2 separate regions of the Homo sapiens genome follow, and region 2 is linked to region 1. The links come from fine-mapping of genetic effects on gene expression. A gene starts in region 1. The other region holds a variant in brackets. All regions are shown on one strand. Distances are between the middles of the regions. Region 1 holds the start of PLAC9 (placenta associated 9). Region 2 overlaps ANXA11 (annexin A11).

What was found. PIP is the estimated chance that this variant, and not a neighbour inherited with it, causes the effect.
Region 2: its variant is fine-mapped to the expression of PLAC9 in whole blood (GTEx, PIP 0.94).

Annotation. Positions count from the first base shown.
Region 1 is chr10:80,126,272-80,138,542 of GRCh38, forward strand. It overlaps PLAC9 (placenta associated 9), which reads left to right and starts at 6,459. Exons shown (of 4, transcript NM_001012973.3): 1 at 6,459-6,555. The coding sequence starts at 6,492. It also overlaps the pseudogene RPL22P18.
Region 2 is chr10:80,149,066-80,161,336 of GRCh38, forward strand. ANXA11 (annexin A11) reads right to left here. Exons shown (of 16, transcript NM_145868.2): 13 at 10,035-10,130; 14 at 8,902-8,960; 15 at 8,576-8,698; 16 at 1,824-6,847. The coding sequence ends at 6,788. Among named protein-coding and RNA genes, the nearest start is that of PLAC9, 22 kb to the left of the region's middle. RefSeq lists enhancers at 9,117-10,316, 9,414-9,955. The variant C/A (reference allele first, on the strand shown) is at 6,364.

The sequences.
Region 1 (12,271 bases):
ATTACATTATTTCTAAACTAATCAGGACGAGGAAGATGAGGATTAAATTTCATTTATCTGGAATATTTTGTATGAGTTCTTGAATAAAACTTGGGAACAAAAAAAAAAAAAAGAAAAAGAAACAAAAAACTTCTTATTTTTTTCTTTTTTTGAGATGGGTCTCACTCTGTCACCCAGGCTGGCATATGCAGTAATGTAATCATAGTTTACTGCCGCCTCGACTTCCCAAGCTCCTGCCATCCTTCCACATCAGCCCCCTGAATAGCTGGGACTACAAGTGTGTGCCACCACACCCGGCTAATTTTTAAATTTTTTTTGTAGAGACAGGGTATGGCTATGTTGTCCAGGCTGGTCTTGAACTCCTGAACTCAAGCCACCCTCCTGCCTCAGCCTCCTAAAGTGCTAGGATTACAGGAGTGAGCCACTACTTCCAACTTCAAAAAAACAAATCTCAACCCATCAAGTCGCCCCCTCCTTTTCCTTCCCCCGAGAGACATCCACATTCACACTTCACTGGCTCACTTTCTCTGGCTATAACTTCTGTGCCTTGGGTTAGTAGCCCCTCTTCATCTGTGCAGAATGGGCTAGGTTTGCCCAGTGCTCACTGAGAGCTCTCCCGGCGTGGGTCTTTCTGGTACCTCTGGAAATCTTCTCTTGTGCCAAAGGAAGAAGACAAGGAGGCTTTGTACAGCTCAGGCCCTCCCAGCCACTGACGCTCTTTTAATTGGGCTGTCCTCTCACCCCATCTCTCTCCCCAAAGAGATGACCAGCCCCTATTTCCTGTTTCCTTTGGCCCTTTGCCTTTGGGTATGGATTGGGAGAGCAAGCCCCTGCCAGATTTCCCACCACTTGTGCCCCGGCCCAGCCAGGCTGGGAGGACCTGAGCACATCCTGTAGCATTGCCTGTGGAGGCAGTACAGGTGCCTGGGAGGCAAATCCCTAACTAGTCTCTGTGTGCCCTGGGCCCACCTCCTAACTTCTCCAAGCCTTACATTCTGTATGCTCCCATGACCCTGGCAGGTAGCCTCACAGTCCACGCAGATTGTGACGGTATCTGCCAGGGTCATGGGAGCATTAAGTGAAAGAGAAACGTCTGCACATTAGGGCACTTCATTCATGCAGGTGGTTATGAGCGTTCTCCCCTAACTGCACAGGGCTTGCCACTCTGCGCCCCCCATATCCCATTCATCCCTTTCTCACCTCCACTCTTCAGATTCTCTATTTAGTGCCTTTCCTGGGACTTCAGAGTCAAGAGGCCTGATCATGCAGAGGACCATGAATTTTGGAATCGGATCCACCTAGCTTCCAAACTGGGATCTGCCACCCTCTACTCTTGAATCAGATATACTTAATAGATCTTATTTTTTTAAATGGGGATAAGGATATCTACTTGATAGGTTTACTGATGCAAGGATTAAATAGGGTAATGCATATACAGCCTTAGCACAATACCAGGTTCAGAGAAGTTTAGCAAATAATAGAATAATAATAAATAATAAGAGGTATGACTAGATCCAGCTGGCTACCCACCTTGCTTTGAGGCCTGGTATATGGTTGGCATATTTCTCTAGTTCCTGCCACTGATGCCGGTCTCCCCTATCTTTAATTTCACTGGTCACTTTCAAGAATATTGGAAGGAGGAGGTTTGTCAACTGGGTCCACTGGCTCCATACTATCATTTTGCCCAGGAGTTTCCCTTTACATGTTTGGGCCAGTTTCTGTTGGTATACAGAAATAAATTGATTTCCAAACACTTATCTTAATTTTTTTTTTTTTTTTGAGACAAATTCTCACTCTGTCGCCCAGGCTGGAGTGCAGTGGCACGATCTCGGCTCACTGAAACCTCCGCCCCCTGGGTTCAAGCAATTCTCCTGCCTGAGCCTCCCTAGTAGCTGGGATTATAGGCGTGTGCTACCACGCCTGGCTAATTTTTGTATTTTTAGTGGAGACAGGGTTTCTCCATGTTGGCCAGGCTGGTCTCGAACTCCTGACCTCAAGTGATCCACCTGCCTCTGCCTCCCAAAGTGCTGGGATTAACAGGCATGAGCCACTGCACCCAGCCAAACACTTGTTGATAGTGGCATCTTTTTTTATTTTTTAAATTTTTAATTTAATTTTAAGTTTTTAAATTATTTATTTATTTTTTAGAACAGTGTCTCACTCTGTCACCCAGGCTGGGGTGCAGTGGTGTGATTATAGCTCACTGCAGCCTCAAACTACTAGGCTTAAGCGATCTTCCTGCTTCAGCCTCCCCAGTAATAGGTGTGTGCCACAACGCCCCGCTAATGTGTGTGTGTTTTTTTTAATTTTTAGTAGAGATGGGATCATGCTGTGTTCCCAAGGTTGGTTTCAAACTCCTGGGCTCAAGTGATCCTCCCACCTTGGCCTCCCAAAGTGCTGGGATTATAGGCATGAGCCACCATGCCTGGCCAATAATGGCATCTTTACCTCATTCCTGATTTAATAAAGAATACATTTCTCCTTTCTCTGTTATGTACAGATGAACTATTTAAGATAAAAGTAGTTGGCGGGGCATGGTGGCTCATTCCTGTAATCCCAGCACTTTGGGAAGCTGAGGCGGGAGGATTACTTGAGCCCAGGTGCTCAAGACCAGCCTGGGCAACACAGCAAGACCCCTCGTCTCTATTTTTATTATTTTTTTAATTTGAAAAACTATAAATATAAAAATTAAAGGTAGTTATCTTGTTAAGGAAATGTCCCATTATTTCCTTTATTTTTATCCTAAGTTTGTTGTTATTACTGTTTTTAAGTTAGGGAGGCCTGTTTAATTTCATCAAATATGGTTTCAGTATTTATTGAAATTATATGTCTGTTTTGCATTTTTGTTTCCTTGACCTTGTGACAGACATGATGTAGAGAGATTTTCCCAGAACTCCCCTCGGAAATGAGTAGCTAGCCAACTACTTTATGTTCAAAGTAGTGGTAAAAGGATGGACTAGGCAATAAAGAGCATTAGGACATTTAGATACCCATTTAGGGAAAAATTTAAGTTTGATTCCTTCCTTGCAACCACATAAAAATTCTAGATGGATTAGACATTAGACCTTGAGAAAACCTTAAAACTGTTTGAAGGAAACATAGAAAAATATCTTTACAGCCTTGATTCGAGGAATCATAAGCAAGTTGTAAACTCTATAAGCCATAAAAGAAAATATTGGGAGGCCGAGGCGGGCGGATCACGAGGTCAGGAGATTAAGACCATCCTGGCTAACACGGTGAAACCCCGTCTCTACAAAAAATACAAAAAATACAAAAAATTAGCCGGGCGCGGTGGCGGGCGCCTGTAGTCCCAGCTACTCGGGAGGCTGAGGCAGGAGAATGGCGTGAACCCAGGAGGGCGGAAGTTGCAGTGAGCCGAGATAACGCCACTGCAGTCCGGCCTGGGCGAAAGAGAGGGACTCCGTCTCAAAAAAGAAAAAAAAAAAAAAAAAAAAAGAAAAGAAAATATTGAGAGATTTGGCTACCTAATATTTAAAACTTCTGAATGATGAAAGACACCACCAAGAAACTTAAATATAATGGAAGGCTGGAAGAAGACATTGCCAACATATATAACAGGCATTGCATTAATAATCAGAGTATATAAAGGAAAGGGAGGAAAATAGAAAAAAGTAATCGAAGAAGCAAATAAAGCTTAACCTCACTCATAACAAGTAGCATGTAAATAACAATAACAACAAGGTAACATTTTCCATCATCAAGCTGTCAAAATTTTAAATAATAAATATCCAGTGTTGGAGAATGTAGGTGACTGATAGGTTTACACTTCAGGTATCTCCAATCCAGAAGGGTTTTTTTTGTTTTTTTGTTCTGTTTTGTTTTTGAGACGGAGTCTCACTCTGTCACCCAGTGCAGTGGGTGACACTGCAGGAGTGCAGTGGCGCAATCTCGGCTCACGGCAAGCTCCGCCTCCCGGGTTCATGCCATTCTCCTGCCTCAGCCTCCCGAGTAGTTGGGACTACAGGCGCCCGCCACCACGCCCGGCTAATTTTTTGTGTTTTTAGTAGAGACGGGGTTTCACCATGTTAGCCAGGATGGTCTCAATCTCCTGACCTCGTGATCCACCCGCCTCGGCCTCCCAAAGTGCTGGGATTACAGGCGTGAGCCGCCGCGCCCAGCGCAGAAGTATTTTATGTAAATGGCGCCCCCTGCAGCCCAATTCCTACCTAGACTAACATGCTCAGGTGCACCTTGGAACAGCGCTGGAAGACCCCTTGCCCCTCCTGTGGGCTTAGTAACAATTTGGGGAACAGTTTTTGGCCTATCTGGCAAAATGTAAAAGGCCTTTGACGCAATGATTCCTCTTCCAGCCTTTCAGAAATATGTACATACAGGAATATGTACTACGTACATGAAGATATATGCAAAGGAATGTTTATTAAAGCTTATTTTATATTGGAGAGAAAAAGGAAGCAATCTACATGTCTGTCAATAGGGGACTGTTTGGATAAATAATGCTCCTTGTATCCATTCATGGGATATTTTAACTCTTAAAAGGAATGAAGTGGATTTATCTGTACCCACATAGACTGATCTCCAAGATTATTTTCTTTTATTTTAAGATGGAGTCTTGCTCTGTTGCCCAGGCTGGAGTGCAGTGGTGCAATCTTGGCTCACTGCCACTTCCGCCTCCTGGGTTCTGATTCTCCTGCCTCAGCCTCCTGAGTAGCTGGGACTACAGGCGCCCAACACCACGCCCTGCTAATTTTTTGTATTTTTAGCAGAGACGGAGTTTCACCACGTTGGCCAGGTTGGTCTCAAACTCCTGGCCTCAGGTGATCCACCCACCTCGGCCTACCAAAGTGCTGGGATTACAGGCGTGAGCCACTGCACCCAGCCAAGATTTAATGTTATGACTGAGATAAACATGAATGAAAGCAAATCTTCAAAATATCTATGACTTGATCTCATGTATATACATTTGTGTCTGAATATACATTAGGTAGATGGGGAATGCATAGACGTGGAACAGGCAGAGCCTACCAAGTTGAGGGGACTGGACCTGAATCATTGGACGGAGGGAATTCGTAACAGAAAAGACTTTCATGTTTTACTCTGTATACTTAATTACTTTATGCTCTACCGCAACAATAATGTATTGTATATGTTTTTGTGTGTGTGTGTGTTTTCTTAGTCTTAAATTCAAAATATAAGGTAGCCCACTGGCTCTAAGCTACAAGAATCCTTATGAGTTGGGCAGTTCTTTGACAACTTTTTTTCCCACCTGGCGAAACTATCAAGGAATGTCCTACCACCAAGCGTGAGAAATTTTTGGCATTCCTGAAATAAATTCTTCTTCTGAGCCAGCTCATGTGGGCATCATAATCTCCTTGAAGGCTTTTAAAAGATTTAGATCTGAGTCTGTCTCAGATTCTCGGGCTCAGAACCAGAATTTCTCCGTCTGAGGCTACTATCTTGCTCTGGAGGAGGGAGTGAGAACTGGATCACTGGTTAGCGTGGTAACTGTTTTGGACAATTGCATAGCCACAGCCAGGAACACAGAAGGCAGAGAGGCAGCCTTGATCTGCAAGAGCTCCAGGTAATCCCAACGGGGACCCTTGATGGACAAAGGCATTCTCCCAGGCTTGGTGATGAATGTGTTCCACTTACAGCCAGACGAGACACTCACTCAGGGCTCTGCAGCAGAGAAGTTAGAGCTACAGCTTTTTTGCTTTGTGTTTTTACTAAAACTTAATTTGTTGTTGCACTTGTTGGATGGGCATGTCCCATAGGGGAAGTTTCCACTACTGTGCTCTAAACTTTGGGCTGCTTGTACCATCTTACTTATCCCCTCATTAATAATGAATTGAATAAAATCTTTAGTATATGCTAATTTCATATCTTTGCGAGAGTTACGATTTTACCTTTTCTTTTTAAAATTACCTTTTCATATTTCTATCACTCCCTTACCAGAGCAGTGAGTTTCTGGGTCTCCCTCTTAGGGGCAGACACTGTTCCATGTAATTAGAATTAATTTCTTGTTCGTAGGTAGACAGAGAAAAGCTGCCAAACTCCCAGGAGACAGGGGTTCAGATCCTGTGCTATGGCTGAGAGTGATGCCGAGGAAGACACTTCCCTCCGAGTCTTAGTCTGCCCGCCTGTGAAACTGGCTCGTAACAAACCCCTGACCCCAGGCTCGGTCGCCTTGAGCCCAAGACCTCACCCAATGCCCCCCGCCCCGCCTTCCCTCCCGGGCTCCCAGGAGGTGCGGGGACTCGGGGGGCGGCCCCTTCCTCGGGAGGCGCCCAGGTGGCACGTCGGTGCCTCAGCTCCCGGGGTCTCTGGGCTCCGCGCTGCCCACGGGGTGCCGAGGGGCCTCTGGAGGGGGCGGGTTCTCTCGAGCCAGAAAGTCCGGAGCCGCCCAGGAATTTTGGCTCGAACTGAGTGCATTTCCTCTCGGGCCGGCCGGGTGCGATCCGGGAAGGGCGGCTGCGGGCAGACGCGGCGCTGCGCTCGGCCAGGCCGGCACCATGCGGCCCCTGCTCTGCGCGCTGACCGGACTGGCCCTGCTCCGCGCCGCGGGCTCTTTGGCCGGTGAGTGGGGCGCAGGGCGCGGCAGGGGACCTGGAGCCGGGGAGACCCGCAGATGGCGAGGAAGGAATGAGCGAGAGAGACGGAGAGAGAGCTGGACACAGCAGCGAGATGGACAGAGAGGCAGATGCAGGGAGGGAGGGATGGAGAGAAAGATTGAGAGGAAACAGACTCAGAAAAAGGCAGAGAAGTAGAGCAACGGAGAGATAAAGGAGATAGGGAAGAATACACAGTGAAAAGGAAAAAGGAGAGGCTGAGACAGAAAGAGGCTTCCCCTGAACAGATATGAACTAAGATAGAAAGAAAAAGGAGTTTGAGAGACAAAAGAGAAGAAGGAAAGAGAAAAAGTGATTAAAATGGCAAGGGGTGGAGGGAGAGAGGATATTGAAGAAAAGAGAAAGATTTGAGAGAGACCAAAAAGGAGAGAGAGGGAAGCTCGATGCCCGGAGTAGAGCTGGCAAGAGAGAAGGAGCCAGGATCTGGAGTGGGAGGTCACAGCTGCTGGGTGGGGCAGCCCCGGAGGCCAGCTCCATCTCAGAGGGCCTGTGGAGGCTCAGGCCTGGCTTTATAGGACATTGCATAAGAAGCCACACTCCAAAGGATGAGTGACCCAGGCTAGCCCAGCACAGCCTTAAGGAACCAGGCAGTCGGGCCCAGGAGAAAGGCCACCGATTCACCTGCCAGGTGGCCTCAGGTGGATCTGCAGTCAGTGAAGAAGTCAGCCTCCCGGTTTCCAGGGAGCTTCTCTGGGAAACTGAGCTATGTTGGGTGGAGATGGGGGACTGGGTGGAGGTGGAGAGCTGTGCGGAGGAGAGAGGCTGTCTGGGTACTCCATTAGCTGGGTTCCTTGCTTTTCACTGTCCGCTTTCTTCCCCTCACCTACCCCTCAGGCGGGCGGATCACAAGCTCAGGAGATCAAGACCAGCCTCGCTAACATGGTGAAATGCTGTCTCTATTAAAAATACAAAAAATTAATCGGGCGTGGTGGCACATGCCTGTAGTCCCAGCTACTCGGCAGGCTGAGGCAGGAGAATCACTTGAACCTGGGAGGCGGAGGTTGCAGTGAGCCGAGATCAAGCCACCGCAATCCAGCCTGGGTGACAGAGCAAGACTCAGTTTCAAAAAAAAAAAAAAAAGAAGAAGGAAAGGAGGAAAGTATTCATGTATTAGTGTAATTTCACACTGATTTCATATATTTTTGTGCATAATCTTTCAGATTTTAGATGATATATCTTAACTTTTGATTATGAAAACTTTTGGATACAAAAAAATACAAAGTAATAGTATGTGAAAGAATCATGTAATATACTTATCAACGCTGCTTCAAGAAGTATCAGTTCATGGGCAGTTTTATCTCATCTATAGCCTCCACCCTCTCTCCCCTCCCTGGATTATTTTAAAGGAAATCCAGGCATTGTATATTTTCTTTCTTTCTTTCTTTCTTTTTTTTTTTTTTTTGAGACAGGATTTCATTCTGTCACCCATGCTAGAATGCAGTGGCACAATCTCAGCTCACTGCAACCTCCGTCTCCCGGGTTCAACTGATTCTCCTGCCTCAGCCTCCTGAGTAGCTGGGACTACAGGCACGCACCACCACACCTGACTAATTTTGGTATTTTTAGTAGAGATAGGGTTTCACCATGTTGGCCAGGCTGGTCTCGAACTCCTGGGCTCAAGTGATCCACCTGCCTTGGCCTCCCAAAGTGCTGGGATTACAGGTGTGAGCCACAATGCCTGGCCTGGCATCATGTATTTTCATCTATAAATATTTCTTTGTGTACCTCTAAGAGATAAGCACTCTTAATAAACATAACTGCAATGCTATGATCATACTCCAAAAACTGTGTGTGATTGAATATCATTAAATATTCAATCACTGTTCAAATGTCCTTGATTGATTGTGTCATATCTTTTTGCAATTCATTTGTTTGATCCAAATAAGGTTACATACACTGCATTTGGTCAATATGTCTGTTAGATCTCTTTAAATATGTAAGTCTTCTCTCCCCTTTTTTTACTTAATTTTTTGTTTTTGTTGAAGAAACTAAGTTTGTCCTGTAAAGTTTTCCACATTTAGATTTTGCTAATTGCATCCCTTTTATGTCATTTAAATACCTCCACCCCTTATATTTTCTATAAATTGAGAGCTATCTCTAGCACGTCCAACTTCCAACCTTGGTTTGTTTGTTTGTTTATTTATTTATTTATTTATTTGAGATGGAGTCTCGCTCTGTCTCCCAGGCTGGAGTGCAGTGGTGCGATCTCCGCTCACTGCAAGCTCCGCCTCCCGGGTTCACACCATTCTCCTGCCTCAGCCTCCCAAGCAGCTGGGACTACGGACGGCTGCAACCATGCCCGGCTAAATTTTTTTTGTATTTTTAGTAGACATGAGGTTTCACTGTGTTAGCCAGGATGGTCTCGATCTCCTGACCTTGTGATTTGCCCGCCTCGGCCTCCCAAAGTGCTGGGATTACAGGTGTGAGCCACTGCGCCCGGCCTTTTTTTTTTTTTTTTTTTTTTGAGACAGAGTCTTGTTTTGTCATCCAGGCTGGAGTGCAGTGGTGCGATCTCAGCTCATCACAACCTCTGCCTCCTGGGTTCAAGCAATTCTCGTGCCTCAGTCTCCCAAGTAGCTGGGATTACAGGTGTGCACCACCACACCCAGCTAATTTTTGCATTTTTTAGTAGAGACGGGGGCTGCGGGGGAGTTTCACCATGTTGGCTAGGCTGGTCTCAAACTCCTGACATCAAGTGATCAGCCTGCCCCGGCCTCCCAAAGTGCTGGGATTACAGGCATGAGCCACCGCGCTGGGCCCAAGTCTTGGTTTCTTTTAGCAGCACTCAGAGAAACCTTTATCCCTGATGGCTTTTTAGACCATGAGCCACCACGCCCGGCCCATATTTTGGAGTTTTTTATAAAATCACTTGAAGAATAGTTTTCTGCTGCTTTCAAAAATGATCAAAACCCGTGGATGGTTTTGAGTGAATCATACATTTTAATACAAATATTGGATGTGGTAAATTTATTATTCTATTATGTTGAATGTGGTCAAATATAATTAACCCCCAAGTGGCCAGGGTTGCTTTTCAAAGCAGAGTGTGACTTTGACAATTCAGAAGATACAGCGGCACCTTTCAGATGCCACTGAGAAAACATTTCTCAACCCCCAGCATGCAGAAATCATCTGTGTTGTGGCCCTTTCTTACTGTTTGGGTCCAGATACAAAAGGTCTCCCCATAAGGCCTGTAAGTAGAAGCACCCGTACTTCCGCCTCAGAGGATGGGACCCAGGGGCCACGTCTCTTTAACTGGGGCAGCCAGCCCAGCCGAGCCCTCCTCTGGGGCCTCCGGGCTCCACAGCAGCGTGTTCTCACCAGCACAGGATGCCCCACCCATGGCCACCATCCAGGGTGCACATCAGGCCCCTAGCAGGAGCCGGGCCAGAGAAAACAACGCAGCATCCAAGGAGGTCCATTTCCCAACTGGCAGGGCCTGGGAGAGCGGGAGGAAAGGAAGGAAGGGAGCCCTGAGGAGCCACAGCCTTGGCTGCTCAGGGTTAATCATCATAATCCTTCAGTCTTTTCCACTCCCCTTGTCTGAGCCACTGACAGCCCTGTGGTGCATGTGCGTGTCTACTATTTTTTATTCATTTATTTATTTTCTTACAAGACACAGTCTTTCACTGTCACCCTGGCTGCAGTGCAGTGGTGCAATCGTAGCTGACTGTAGTCTCAAACTCCTGGGCTCAAGCGATTCTCCCGCCTCAGCTTTCCAAATACCTGAGACTACAAGTATATACCACCAATCCTGGCTAATTTTTTTTTAATTTTTATTTTATTTATTTATTTATTTATTTATTTATTTATTTTTGTAGAGACAGAGTCTCACTATGTTGCCCAGAGTGACCTCAAACTTCTGGCTTCAAGCGATCCTCTTGCCTCAGCCTCCTAAAGCTCTGGGATTACAGGTGTGAACCACCGAGCCCAGCTCGTCTAGCTAATTCTTGAGGCCTCTCTGCAGCCTCCAAAAGACAGAAGAATTAAGGATGCGCTACACGGGGGAGTCAGGGCCTCAGGCCTACCCTACCCCATTTTATGTAAGAGGCAGCAGAGGCTCAGGGAGCAGAAGAAACTTTCTCACAATCCCACAATCATTAGTGGCTGAACCAGGCTGAGAAAAGGGGTCTCCAGCATGTTTTCTACCATGATGCGTTCAAGTCAGCGCTGTGGTGAGGATGCTGGCAGTACAATGTCAGGCCCTGCTCCAAGCTTGCTCTCTCAGATGCACTCTGTGGAGGCCCCGATGAGCTCACGGACAGTTGCTCCAGGGTGCACAAAGCACAGTTTTGTCCAGATGTGAAGGATTAGTGCTGAGCCATGTTGGGAGCGACCTCAGCCCAGCCTTTTCCCTGGAGGGGTTTTGGAGCCAAGTTAGACCTCATCACAGACACGTAGAGAACAGGGTGGTTTAGGCCAGTGGAGGGGAGCAGGCTCTGGTTGTTCTGACTTCCAAAGCAGCCAGACTCCCATTTGGCTGGCAGGGTCACACTGCATCCCCCTGGCCTGAGCCTTACACGGGAGAGTGGCTAGGGTCTGGGAGAGGGCAGGTGAGCCTCAGAGAAAAGGCTTGGCCAAAGGCCTCTGGACAGAGCCAGCAGGGGGGTATGTGTATCCACAGACTCATGACAACAGGCCCTCCCCTAGGACGGCCACTCTGTGGGTGACAACAGAGGCCCCCTCAGAGCTTTTCCTCTCCAAGCTGAGCAGCCCAGTTTCAGCTGAGAGAATTGAGTTAAAATTTGGAGTCCCAGACTGGGTGCGGTTGTTCACTCCTATAATCCCAGCACTTTGGGAGGCCGAGACAGGCGGATCACTTAAGCCCAGGGGTTTGAGCTTAGCCTGGGCAACGTAGTGAAATCCTATCTCTACAAAAAATACAAAACGTAGCCAGGCATGGTAGTGTGTGCCTGTAGTCCCAGCTACTCTGGAGGCTGAGGTGGGAGAATTGCTTGAACCCGGGAAGAAGAGGTTGCAGTGAGCCATGATTGTGCCACTGCACTTCAGCCTGGGTGACAGAGTGAGACCCTGTCTAAAAAAAAAAAAAAAAAAGAGGAGTCCCTTCCCATAGCCTCCTCTAGACCTGCTCCTGCCTCTCAAGGGCCTTCTCAGGATGTGGGGCCAGGATGGAGCATAGCCCCCAGGGGCCTCTCTCTCTCTGAATATTTTACATGAATGCCTGCAGCCCACAATGGCTGCTGCTTTCTGCTGACAACCTCGTCAGACAGCCAGCTTTTGTTATGGAACATTTCAAATCGTGCACACAACAGTAGACAGAATCGCTGAATGCACCCCCATTTGCTCATCACCCAGCTTCAACAATCAGCAACTCTCAGCCCATCCTGTTTGCTCTAAACATCCACGCATGCCTCTCCACCATCCCCACTGAGGCCTGGATTATTTACTTTGGAAGTAAATCCAAGACAGCACAGCCTTTCATCTGTAAATATTTCAGTATAGGTCTTTAAAATACTTGCATTAAAAAAATAACCAAAGGGCCATTATAATGTCCTCCTCCCTCCCCAGATTCAGCAATAACACCATTATCTTTTGAAGAGTATTTTCTAAGTTCAGTGGAGGGAAATAATGAAAAGGATAATTTGGAAAACAGATTGTTCTCCACAAAAGATGCTCAGAGTGGAAGGACATTTTGTCTCTGGTCC
Region 2 (12,271 bases), 23 kb after region 1:
AGACCACCCAAGATTTTCCTTTCAGCACACTGAATATGTCATCTCATTGCCTTCTCACTTCCATGATGTTGGATGAGAAATTGGCTATTAATCTTATCGAAGATTTCTTGTACGTGTCCAGTGGCTCTTTCTGCTTTCAGGATTTGCTTTGCTTTTGGACAGTATGATTATAATGTGTTTCAATGTCACACTGAGTGTCTCTTTGAGTTGACCCTACTTACAATTCATTGAGCTTTTTGTATGTGTAGATTAATGTCTTTCATTATGTTTTCAGCCATTGTTTCTTTAAAAATTTCTTCTACATTCACTCTTCTCTTGATTCTTATTAGGTGTATGTTGGTACACTTGATGGTGTCCTGCAGGTGTCTTAGGCTCAGTTAGCTTTTTTGTTGTTGTTGTTTTCTTTCTGCACCTCAGAATGGGTAATCTCAATTGACCTATCTTGAAGTTTGCTGATTTTTGTCTTCTTCCTTTTTAAGTCTGCTCTGGAACCCTTCCAATGAATTTTTTATTTGTGTACTTCTCAATTCCAGAACTTCTATTTGGTTCCTTTTTATAATTCCAGTCTCTTTACCAATATTGGTGAGACATCATTCTCCTGGTTTCCTTTAGTTCTTTGACCTTTCTGAAAATAATTGACTTAAAGTCTTGTCTGTTAAGTCCAATGTCTGAGCTTTCCTCAGTTTCTATTAACAGATTTTTTTTCTATGTATGAGCCATACTTTGTTTCTTCGCATACCTCATAGTTTTTGTTGAAAACTGAACATTCTGAATATTATTTATAATGTGGCAAGTTTGGAAATAAAATTATTCCTCCACTGTGTCACCTAGGCTGGAGTGCAATGGCAGGATTATGGCTCACTACAGCCTGGACCTCCCAGGGTCAGGTGATCCTCCCACCTCAGCCTCCTGGGCAGCTGGGACTATAAGTGTGTGCCACCAGGCCCTGCAAATTTTTAGTATTTTTTGCAGAGATGGGGTTTTGCCATGTTGCCCAGGCTGGTCTCAAAGTCCTGGGTTCAAGTGATCCACCTGCCTCAGCCTCCCAAAGTGCTGGGATTACCGATGTGAGCCACTGTGCCCAGCCTGTTATTTTCTTGAACTACATTTTTAGTTTTTTAGTTTGTATTCTTTGTCAGGTGTGGCCACTAAGTCTTTGGTTAGCTTAGTGGTCAGCTAGTGATTCAAAAGATTTCTTTGAACACTTGGAACAACAAAATGCCTCGTAGCATTTGCAGATGTGTTCTGTGTTGGGACACACCTTTCAACCTTCACCCATGCAGTTTATAACTATGCCTTAGCCTTCACTTCCTGCTTGCACGGAGCCTGAAGGTCAGGCAGAGGTGACAGCATAGGGCCCTCTCAAGTCTTTTTAAGCACATGCCCAGCCCTAGGCATGTGTATGGTCTTTCAGATTCCCAGGAATATGTGGAATCTCTTTAAAGTCCTTATTCTCACCCAAAGAATCTTATTTCCTAGCCTTTCCTCCTGAAGCTTTTCAATTTGTCTCCTGTTTGCTCCAAATGTTATTCCTTCCCCTAGGCATGAGCCACTAATACACTGACCTTGAAACGTCTTTCCAGGCTGCCATCTTCACTTTAGGAGAGCTCCAAATTAGGCAAAATAAAAGAAAGGCATTTGAACCAGTCCTTCAGGGAGCAACAAATCAAATCAAAATCAACATACTTCTTGAAAATAAGGTCTAATCTGCTACCTCCAGTGACAGGAACCTATACAGGGAATGAGGGATATTGTTTTTGATGCTGCTGCCATGCTGGGGAGTGGGGGATGGGGCCAGGGTAAGCTAAAACACAACAAAGCTCTCTTACTAAATCCAGCTTTTATTCTTAGGTATTCACCTGATTGCTGTAAACTTTCAATTCGTTTCCAGAGTTCCCATAAATTTGAGTTTTTGCCACCTTATTTGCTGCTTTTGTGGAAGGACAGACTTGTGGAATTTCCTATTCCATTTCGTTGACCACATTAAAGTTTTAGAAGCTCTCCTCTAGTCTACCCTTCATTTTAAAAAGTCAAAAAGACAGGAAGTGACATATCCAGGGTCACACAACAAATCAGGGGCTGAGCTGAGATCAGAATAAGGATGTTTGACTCTCAGGTCAGAGCTCTTTCTGCTTCAGGACTTCATCAGCTCTTAGTGTTGAGAAGGAGTCAGGCTCAAGCTAAACACCAATATTAGGCCAAGGGGCAGCTTTCCAAGGAGTAGGGGCTGAGGGTAAGAGTCCTTGGTATACCTGGTGGGCTTGACTGACTCCTTTACTGACAGGGGACCCTACATGAGTCCAGGTTGTGGACTGAGTAATGATGTCCCTATCCCTTAGAAAAACACAGGCAGAGAGCTTTCAGATTTGATGGGGGTGAAAATGTAAACCTTTATCTTTCTGAGGACATGTATTTAGCTTGATGTTTCTAGGTCTCATTCCACTCCATCTCGGCCAGGGCAGGAAAGAGCCTACAGCAGAAATAAGGAGCCAGGTCCTAAGGTAGGGCTGTAACTCCCTGCCAAGGCCAACAGAAAATGGGCATGGCATGGCATTAAACCACCACTTTGACCGTGGGCACCTGCAAAGGTTCATCTTTCAGCTCCCTCTTCCCAAAGCTAGGAGTGCCTCATCTCATCTCTCATCACCTGACTGAATTCCAAGCAGACTGTGCCATCTGCTCACCTGCCCTCTGGAGGAACACCTCTACTTTTGCGGTGTTCTCTGTGTGAGCACAGTAGTATTTAGATAAGCGTTAGATTACAGCAGGTTACAGATGCAGTTTCCCAGTCCCCACACCTGCTCAAAATGCATGAGGGTCTGACCGCAGGAACTGCTCTTTAGCAAGCTCCCCTGATGATCCTGATACACACTCAGGCTTGAAAACCACCACTTTAGGACCATCTACCCAGCCACAGGGTGAGCACTCCAAGGTTTCTTTCTTAAATTTTGCACCTGAGACAAATGCCACCAGGACTAGGGTGAGGCGAGTGAGGCTATCTGTCTCAGGTGCAAAACTATTTAATAGTGTTTCCTCCAGCGCCCCCACAGCTGCTGAAAATTCTCTCAGGGCTGAATTCATCTGGTGCTTCTATTTTAGAAGTCAGACTAGATGTGTAGCATGGACTGGCCTTGACTAACATATCCAGGAGGCAGGAGAAGACCCATTGTGTTCTATCCCAGAAAGATGACCTGTAAGGTTGCACATCTTTCTCCCTATCTTTTTTGTCCTAAGCATAATAAACAGTGTTGATCCCAACCTCCCACTGACCTTGGAAGGCAGTAGGTGCCTTTGCCTCTGGGAAGATCATGAGGCATTCATGCAGTCCTCCAGCCCATACTTAACATGGGTTGGATCTCTTGGGAGTGACCATGAGGGCAGCGAGAGGAACAGGAAGGCAGGGAGAAACAGGACTAGGACAAACACAGGTGTCAGGTCCACAACTATGCCAAATGTCATGCCCAGGGTCAGGTTCCAGCCCATGCTGAGGTTCGAGGGGACTGGGTGGATGGGCGATAGCTGAAAGAAAACCTGGCGGGCCATAGGCAGGTAAAATGTAGTTTTATTCAGCAGCTATCTCATCAGCAGCTCTCACACTGTCCACCTTTACCTAGGCTGTCTTCTCCAGATCTGCAGCTCCTCTCAGCAGCCAGCTCTGTGGCTCCTGCCACCCCCATGCTTGCAGGTGCACTCCCTGGCTACAGGGTCAGCGGCTTAACTCTCCCTCTGGGCACAAGCTGAGCCATGTCCTGGCTCCCCTCTATCTATCTGCCAGATGGTCACTCTCCCTTACAGGGGTCAATAGCTTCACTCTCTCTGGGTGCTAGTGCACACCACGTGGAGCCATGCCCATCCGAGCCCAAGAACATCTGTACAGCGTCAGCAGGGCAGTTATACCTTTTCCAAACAATAGTGGCTTTGAGCCAAGTATGAACTTACACAAGCAGGTTATATAACAAGTGGAGTATACGCCTGTGACCTAAACTCGCTGAGTCACTCTGGCCTGGATATCCACCTTGGTCTATTCCTTGACCAAAGCACATCCATGTACTTTACAACAGGTGGTCTCCAAGTGTGTAGACCAGGGTCTCAAACCCAAAGGCCTGCAGGAGCCAAATGGGTGACATGGGCTTAGTGTAATACAAGACGGAGCCTATAGCAAATAAGGAGTACAGGCCTAAAGGGGCAGCTGCAACTCAGCTCCAGCCATGCAGGAATGCAAGCCCCATAGTGCCAGAATTTCTGAGTTTTCAAGAGAAGCCAGAATTCCAGATTTTTAAAAATATGAAATCTCTCAATGTTTAAATGTTGGCAACAAATTCAAATGTCTAAAAACACTTTGGAAACCAAAGTAAATGTGTCTGTAGGTGCAATATTGCCTGCTGGGCACCAGGCTGGGAACTTTGGAGTAAACAGGGCAAGGTAATGTCACAGAATATGGTCACATCAGAGCACATTGGTTCTAGGCCCCATCACAATTCAGGAGGCCCCCAGGGTCACCTTGAGTTCATGGCAAGTTGTATATGCCAAGCACCCCATCCCATCAGGCAGGTCCCACCTGGCACCCAAGGGCAAGGGGCCTGCCCTAGCAGAGGAGTTCTTGGGAGAGCAGCAGGGATGGGGCTTCAGCTTGGGCTTGAGGCATGGACTCTGACGCAGAGCTGACGTGTTGACCAGGACCTGCCATCAATCTCAGGTAGACCAGGCTAGTTCTCAGCTCATGGCTGCTCCACACCCTTCGGATGTCATTCTTCCTTTATGTTTAGGGGGTAGTCCTCAAGCAAATGTCTGCAGATGAGCTACTCCCTGGGGCTCCTGCCAGGACCCAGCAGGCTTGATCTAGCCTAGTCTCTCTGGATTCTCCCATTTCTTTTTGTTTTTTTCTCATTTGAGACAAGGTCTCGCTCTGTTGTCCAGGCTGGAGTGCAGTGGTGTAATCACAGCTTACTACGGCCTCAATTTCTTGGGCTCTAAGGATCTTCCTGCCTCAGCCTCCAGAGTAGCCGACTATAGGGAATGCACTACAATGCCAGGTAAATTTTTTTTTTTTTTTGAGACAGAGTCTCACTCTGTCCACCCAGGTTGAAGTGCAATGGTGTGATCTCAGCTCACTACAACCTCTGCCTCCTGGGTTCAAGTGATTCTCCTGCCTCAGCATCCTGTGTAGCTGGGATTACAGGAATGTGCCACCATGCCTGGCTAATTTTTGTATTTTTAGTAGAGATGGGGTTTCACCATGTTGGCCAGGCTGGGTCTCGAACTCCTGACCTCAGGTGATCTGCCCGCCTCACCTCCCAAAGTGCTGGGATTACAGCCGTGAGCCACCACGCCTGGCCAAATTTTTTAGTAGAGACAGGGGTCTCGCTGTTGGCTAGGCTAGTCTTGAACTCCTGAGCTCAAGTGATCCTCTCACCTCAGCTTCCCAAAGTCCTTGGATTACAGGCGTGAGCCATAGTGCCTAGTCGATTCTCTCTTTTCTAAACCTCAACGCAGGAGGTTGGAAAAGGAGTGGGTGGAGACCCCTGATGCAAGGTAAGCTCTAGCTTCTGGACATGACACCATAATTCTCAGAAACTCTCTTATGGATTCTCTTCCCTCACACCACCAACCAACGGGCACAGGGTCCCCAGAGACCAGAGCCAGGAGCCCCTTTCAGCCTGGAGGCACCCTGAGGGGAGGCACTGGTCTTGTGACTCTCTGGGTTGTCCCCATCCTTCTCTCTGGCCCCCGCCGAGGGGCACCAGGAATTAGCACACACCCTTCTTCCCTCCTGGGACCTGGGTGAAGGACTGCATTCTTCGCACCACACCTTCAGTGGACTTCACTGCACCTGCAACCAACCAAGATCCCTTTGCCTTTCAGGTGTCTGGGCCTCCTGCCTGGATTTCGGGAACCTCCCTTCCCATGTCCTTACGAGTCCCTGCAAACTAGTGTATGCTCAGGGTTTCCTGCACACAAATCTCTACGTAAGGTTACATGAACTTTCACTGGCTGATAAGGCCAGACCTCTGAGCCACAGGGCAGAATCAAGCAGAAGAAAACAAGTTGGTACCAGGAAGACATTTCCAGACCATTCCAGAGCTGGCTGACTCTTAATGTGGAAACAAGTTTTGGCTACAGACATTCAGGTTTAAGGCACATACCACAAATTACAAGAAGCCCTGTCACTGACAGGGAACTGGCTTTGTTCTCGTGGTTTCTGCAAGGAAGATGGAAGGAATGACTTTCTGGCCCTTTTTTTTTGTTTTTTCTAAAAAGGAGTGAGTTTGGCAGTAACAAAGCTCGTGACACACTCACCAGATGCACAGGCTACCTTCTCAGGCACGCCTCCCTTTCTCTCCTCAGCGAGGACACGGTGCTTCA[C/A]CCACCCAGTCGCCCTCACCAGAAATGTGTATGCAGCAAACAGACTTGTATGCCTCTGTCTGGCAATGACTGTAAGAAAAGAAAATATGCCTCCAAATAAAAATATACAATTACATGACGAAATGAAGCCAAGTCTTAGCCACAGGCAAAGGGGAATGATTGCATGAGTCAGAAAAATGAAACATCTATTTTAGCAGCAAGAGGCTGTGAGGGATGGGGTAGAAAAGGCATCCTGAGAGAGTTCTAGACCGACCCAGGTCCTGTGGCACACTATACGGGTCAGGAGGGGTGGAAGACAGGCCTAAGCTCTAGGACGGTGAATCTCGGGGCTATTTGTGGATTTGTTAGAAACAGACATTCTTTTGGCCTTTTCCTGGCACTGGTGTTGCCGGCAGGTGGGCAGAAGTGAGCCACCAGTCACTGTTCAGTCATTGCCACCACAGATCTTCAGCAGAATCTTCCGGTAATCCCCTGAAGTATCTCCCTGGCCACAGAAACAAGGAAGACATCCGTTAAGGGAGGGACAGTCACTTTCAGCCTTCTGGGTCCTGATATTCAGCCCTGAGCACCCTTATAGGGAGAAAGCCCCACCCTGGGGAATTTTCTCCCACTGCAGGTCCTGCAGCAGGCGTCACAGACCTTAAAAAATGCAGTTCAGCCTTCTCCAGGCCCCCATCAGAAGACGGAAAGCAGCACTCACCCCAGCTATCCACATCAAATGAATACCCACAAAAAAAAATTATAATCATCCTAAAAACCACTTCCCAGGGCTAACCAATATTGCTGTTTTCCCAGTGCATTTATGCTGCCTTAAATTGGGGTTACCAATGTAACGCAACACAGTGTCCTGCTCAGGAAATGCAATCTCCTCACACATGACTGTCCAGTGGAAGGCTCAGACTGCCCAGGTCCCAGGGATCTCTCCTCTGTCTGAGGCCACTACACTTACTCTAAGAGTGCAGGCTCGGCTTGGCTCATTTCTAATCATTTCCTTCCACCCTAAGCAACTTGAGGGCAAGGCATGTGGCTTCTTCCAGATGTCCATAGCTTGCTGGCATGCAGGAGATACTCTGTAATGAATTATTAACTCTCTTTTTTTTTTTGAGACGAAGTCTCACTCTGTCACCAAGACTGAAGTGGAATGGCGTGATCCCAGCTCACTGCAACCTCTGTCTCCCGGGTTCAAGCAATTCTCCTGCCGCAGCCTACCTAATTAGCTGGGATTACAGGCAAGCCCAGCTAATTTTGTATTTTTAGTAGAGACAGGGTTTTACCTTGTTGGCCAGGCTGGTCTCGAACTCCTGACCTCAAATGATCCACCTGCCTCAGCCTCCCAAAGTGCTGGGATTACAGGCGTGAGCCACTGTGCCCAGCCTAGAATCACTAATTCTCTAACAACAGCTTCATTCATACAGCCAAGGAAACACAGTGAGTTTCCTGTGATGACATGCCCACCATCATCAAATGCTACTGAGTCTAAGGTGGGAGGACGTGGTCCCCATGGTGCAATTGCAAGGCTCATGTGAGTTCAGAATTTGAGCGTTAGACCACACAGCTGAGAATGTATTTTGTCAGACTGGCTCTGCCACACAGCGATACAACTGTGGCTAGTGTTTAATAGACACTTGACCTGCACTGCCTCACTCAATACTCACAACATTCCCAGGAAGGAACGATTATTTTCTCATCTTAAAGACAATGGAGCTGGGGTTCAGGGAGATTTAAGGGAGCCATTCAAGGTCACACAGTTAGCAAGTAGAAAAGCTGGACTCCAAGTGGCGTGACCCCCAGGGCCCTCGCTCTGAACGGCCTTACTATGTGGCCTACGCCATAAAGCTGAGTGCAGGAAGTGCTTTGTCAGGGAGTGACAGCAGAGCTCCACAGAGCCTTTGGGACATGAGTTCTCACTGACAGATCAAGGAATCACACGGTGATCGGAACGCTGAAGGTCACGGTCAAGGTTGGGGAGGTCCCGAGTGTTCTCTGATGCTGCTGGGGGATGCAAGGTGGGGGCGACAGCAAGGTCATGATCCACCTGCCCTCAGAAATTTATAATCTGTTTAAGGGCAAGGGGATGAACAAGTCCGAGGTCCATAATCAAGATGCCCACACACAGCACAGAGGCCAAGCATATGGCCACTCCAAGGAGGGAGGTTCCACAGGTGACTGAGATGCCAAAAGGGAGCCCAGTTGGCCTGCAGCAGGCCCGTACCGAGATGTCGTGGTACAGCGACTTGCCGTACATCCGCTTATACTCTGATCTGATGTCCAGGAGGTCGGTCTCGCTGCGAGACACCATGATGCGAATCAGGGTCCGGTCCTTTGTTCCTGCCCCCTAAAGAGAGTCCACCCAAGAGCATGAGCACCAGGCCTCCTCACCTTCCCACCTGCCCTGGGCCCTCCAGTCCCCTCCCTACCCAGGTCCTCGGAACTCTCAGCTGAGATTTAGCTCTCCCCAGGCCTTCTGCCCTCAGCCCTTGGTCCCAGGCACAGGCGAGGCTAAGGTTCCATCGCAACCTGCACATGGAAGTTACATACCCTCATGGCCTTGTTGAGCCTCTCCGCAAAGAAGGCTGGGGTATTCTTGAGACATTTCACTAGAAGAGAGAAACTCGGCATAACCAGATCTGCAGAAAATTCTCAGCCCAAGCAGGGCATGGAGTCTACAAGTGTCCTCTTAGAGGCCCAGATGTCAAACCCATCACTGCATCCATCTTTTCTCCTCCTCCTTCTGTTCCAGGCTCAACTATCCCATGATCTTGGCTCCAGCTATTTGGAACAGAAACACGCAAAGCCTGGAAACCAACCCACCCTCTTTCCTGGCAACCACTGCGGTGAAAGGACCAAGAGTCAGAGGGGCGGGGGTCTTAGTGGGGCTAGGAGCTACACAGGGAAGCAATGTGGATGGTGATGAGGAACTGTGCTGCTGCTCAGGCAGGAGGGGCAGACTGGAGAGGCCATGACCGTCATGGAGAAACCGTGGCTGAGTGGAATGTGCATCTCCCTAGGCTTCCCAGGCCATGAGACCTACTATGGGGGACAGGCAGGGAAATGAGGATTTTCCATCTCTCCCATCCAGAAAGCTCCAAAAAAAGCATAATGAAAAAAGGGGCAGACTGATTTTCCCAAGTGAGTAGAAAGAGGGGTTGTGAGGGCCTCAGGGCAGGGACCCAACTCTGCACAGTGGGAGGGCCCTGCTAGAGGACATGGGCAATGTAAGAGGCACACCACCATCCTGGAGCCAAGCCAGCTTTCCTCAGCATGGGCCTGTTTCGCTGCTGCAAGTAAAAATCTTTCCACGTGTTTCCATCACAAACATCTGACAACTGCCTGCAGGGATGTATTTTTAGAGGAAACGTGGCAGGATATGAGTCATACTCCTCCGGGAGCGCAGTTGGATGCCCTCCCACTAATACCCACACTGCAGTTCCCTACTCCAGAGCTGCACCGCAAACACACACAAGACACCTCCAGGACAGCTAGGGGTTCAACTGCACAGGGAACCGGGAAGCAGCATGACTTCCCAGCATCTGGACACTCTGGGCTGAGCGATCTTGGATCCTGTGGTCCCTTCACGGTGTCACCCATCAGCTGGAGGACAGGCGAGCAGCCTGAACACTCACGATACACGTTAGCCCCTGGCAGGTGGGCGGCAAACCTGAGACACTTACCCACGGCCAGCATGCCCTCCTCCAGGTCCCCGGACATCTCCCGGCAGATGCTCTTCTCAATGTCCCGGCCTGTCATTCTCTGGTACTCATTGAAAACTATGGGGATGACAGAGGCTTATATTATGAACTGAAATGTGTCTCCCCAAAGTTCATATGTGGAAGTCCCAACTCCCAGGACTTCAGAATATAACCGTGTTTGGAGATAAGATCTTTAAAGAGGTAATTAAGTTAAAACATGCTGCTAGGGTGTACCCTAATCCAATTCGCCTGGTCTCCTTAGAAGAAGAGAAGATTAGGACACACACAGAGATCCCAGGGATGTGCACATGCAGAGGAAAGACCATGTGAGCACAGTGATTGTCACGAAGAGGCCACGGGAGAAACCGGCACCCCACTCTTGGATATCTGGCCTTCAAAACTGTAACAAAATGAGTATCTGCTGCTTAAGCCACCCAGTCTGTGGTATTTTGTCATGGCAGCATGAGCAGACTAACAGAGGACTCACATGAGGTGGCCTCTGCCCCAAAATCTCCCACCTGCCACTCTGCTCCCACACCCTGCACGTCCCCAGGCCTGCTAGCGCTCAAGGAAGTCAGAGTCTTCGTCACAAGTTACATGCACCACCTGATGTCCCTCCCTGTGTGGTCCCTTTCTCAGGACTGCCAATCTGCTTAACCAAATCGCACCTTAATACCCCTCCAGGGCCCACTCCCATGTACTCCAAGACAGTGTCCCCTCTTCTCAAATCCTCCACACCTCCAGTCTCTGCCATTCCTTGGCTTTATTCATGCATCCATCTGTCTTCCTCAGCCTGCCTGTGAGCTGAGGCCCAGCCTGCCCCAGCCAGCCTGGCTTCTTGCTGCTCACCTCGACCTAGGACACGCTAAGCACCCACAGGAGTGGATGGCTGGCTCCTAGAGAGACAGGTGGCATGATGGAGACCTTGGTCCTGACTCCAGTTCTGACCCAGGACATAAAACTCTCCTTCCCCAGCCTGAGTCTCAGCTACCATTTGCATTTTAAAGTTGTGATTTCTGCTCTGTGTGTATCTGTCTCAATTAATATCTTCTTCCAATCAGCTACTCTTTTCTCCTAAGTAATAATGTTTGTGAAGCCATGGGCTTGATGCACTACTTACATGTTCTGTACTCATTAAAAGAAATAATGATTAAGATGAAAATGCTTTCACTCAGGCTCCATTACAGGATAGTGCAGAGGTTAAAAAGTGTGCTCTGGGGTCGGGTGGTCTGGGTTCAAATCCCAGCTCAGCTGTTACTAGCTGTGCACCCCTACTTCCTCTACCACCCTGTGCCTGCTTTCACAGCTGCGAATGGGGAGAGCCACAGCGCCTGTCTCTGTGTGCAGCACAGAGCGGTCGCTGGGTTTTCACCCTCACTGCCCACTGGAGCAGCCCTGGCCACAGCCCACCAGTTGCTCCGTGTGGTCACCATCCTCAGTCCTTGCCTGCCACCTCACACTGGCCTCCAGGACCCCCTTCCTCTGCGTCCTCCTCCCTCCCTAGCTGCTCCTTCTTAGTCTCCTCACACCGGTGGGCTCCCCACAGTCTCCCTCCTGAGGGGACCTCCTGCAGTCCCAGAGCCTCAGATAACTTCAACTACCCATAGCTCCCTTACCTTCCACAACCAGGCCAGACCTCTCCTGACCTCCACACTCAGCAACCCAGCAGCCTCCCTGCAGCTCCACCCTACAGGCACCTAAAGCCAGCTCCACCTACAGTCCCCCTGTCTCAGTTGAGGGCCATTCTCCCACTGCTTGGCCTAAAGAAACCCTGTATAATCCTCGAACCCTCTCTCTCCCACACGTCACGTGTCCAATTCATCAGCAAACATGGCCGGAACCTGACACCTCCTCACCACAAGCCCCTATTACCACCATTCCTCCCCGGGTCCCTGCAGCAGCCTCCCGACAGGCTTCGCTGCTTGGCCTTGCACCCTTCACTCCATTCTCGGCACCACAGCCAGGGATTCTGCACAGCCTCCTCTGCTCAGGGCCCTCCACTGGCTTCCTCTTTTGCTCAGGATAAATACCCAGCTCCGGGAAGTCATCAGCAGGGCCCTCTCCCCTCTCTGCCCTCACCTCCCACTCCTCTTGCTCACTCCACCTGCTCCACATGGTCCCCCTTCACTGTTCTCAGTCGTGCTGGGAGCCCCAGGCAGGCCTCTGCCCCTGCATCTCCCTTTAGGTTTTTAAATCAAATGTCACGACCTCAGTGGGGA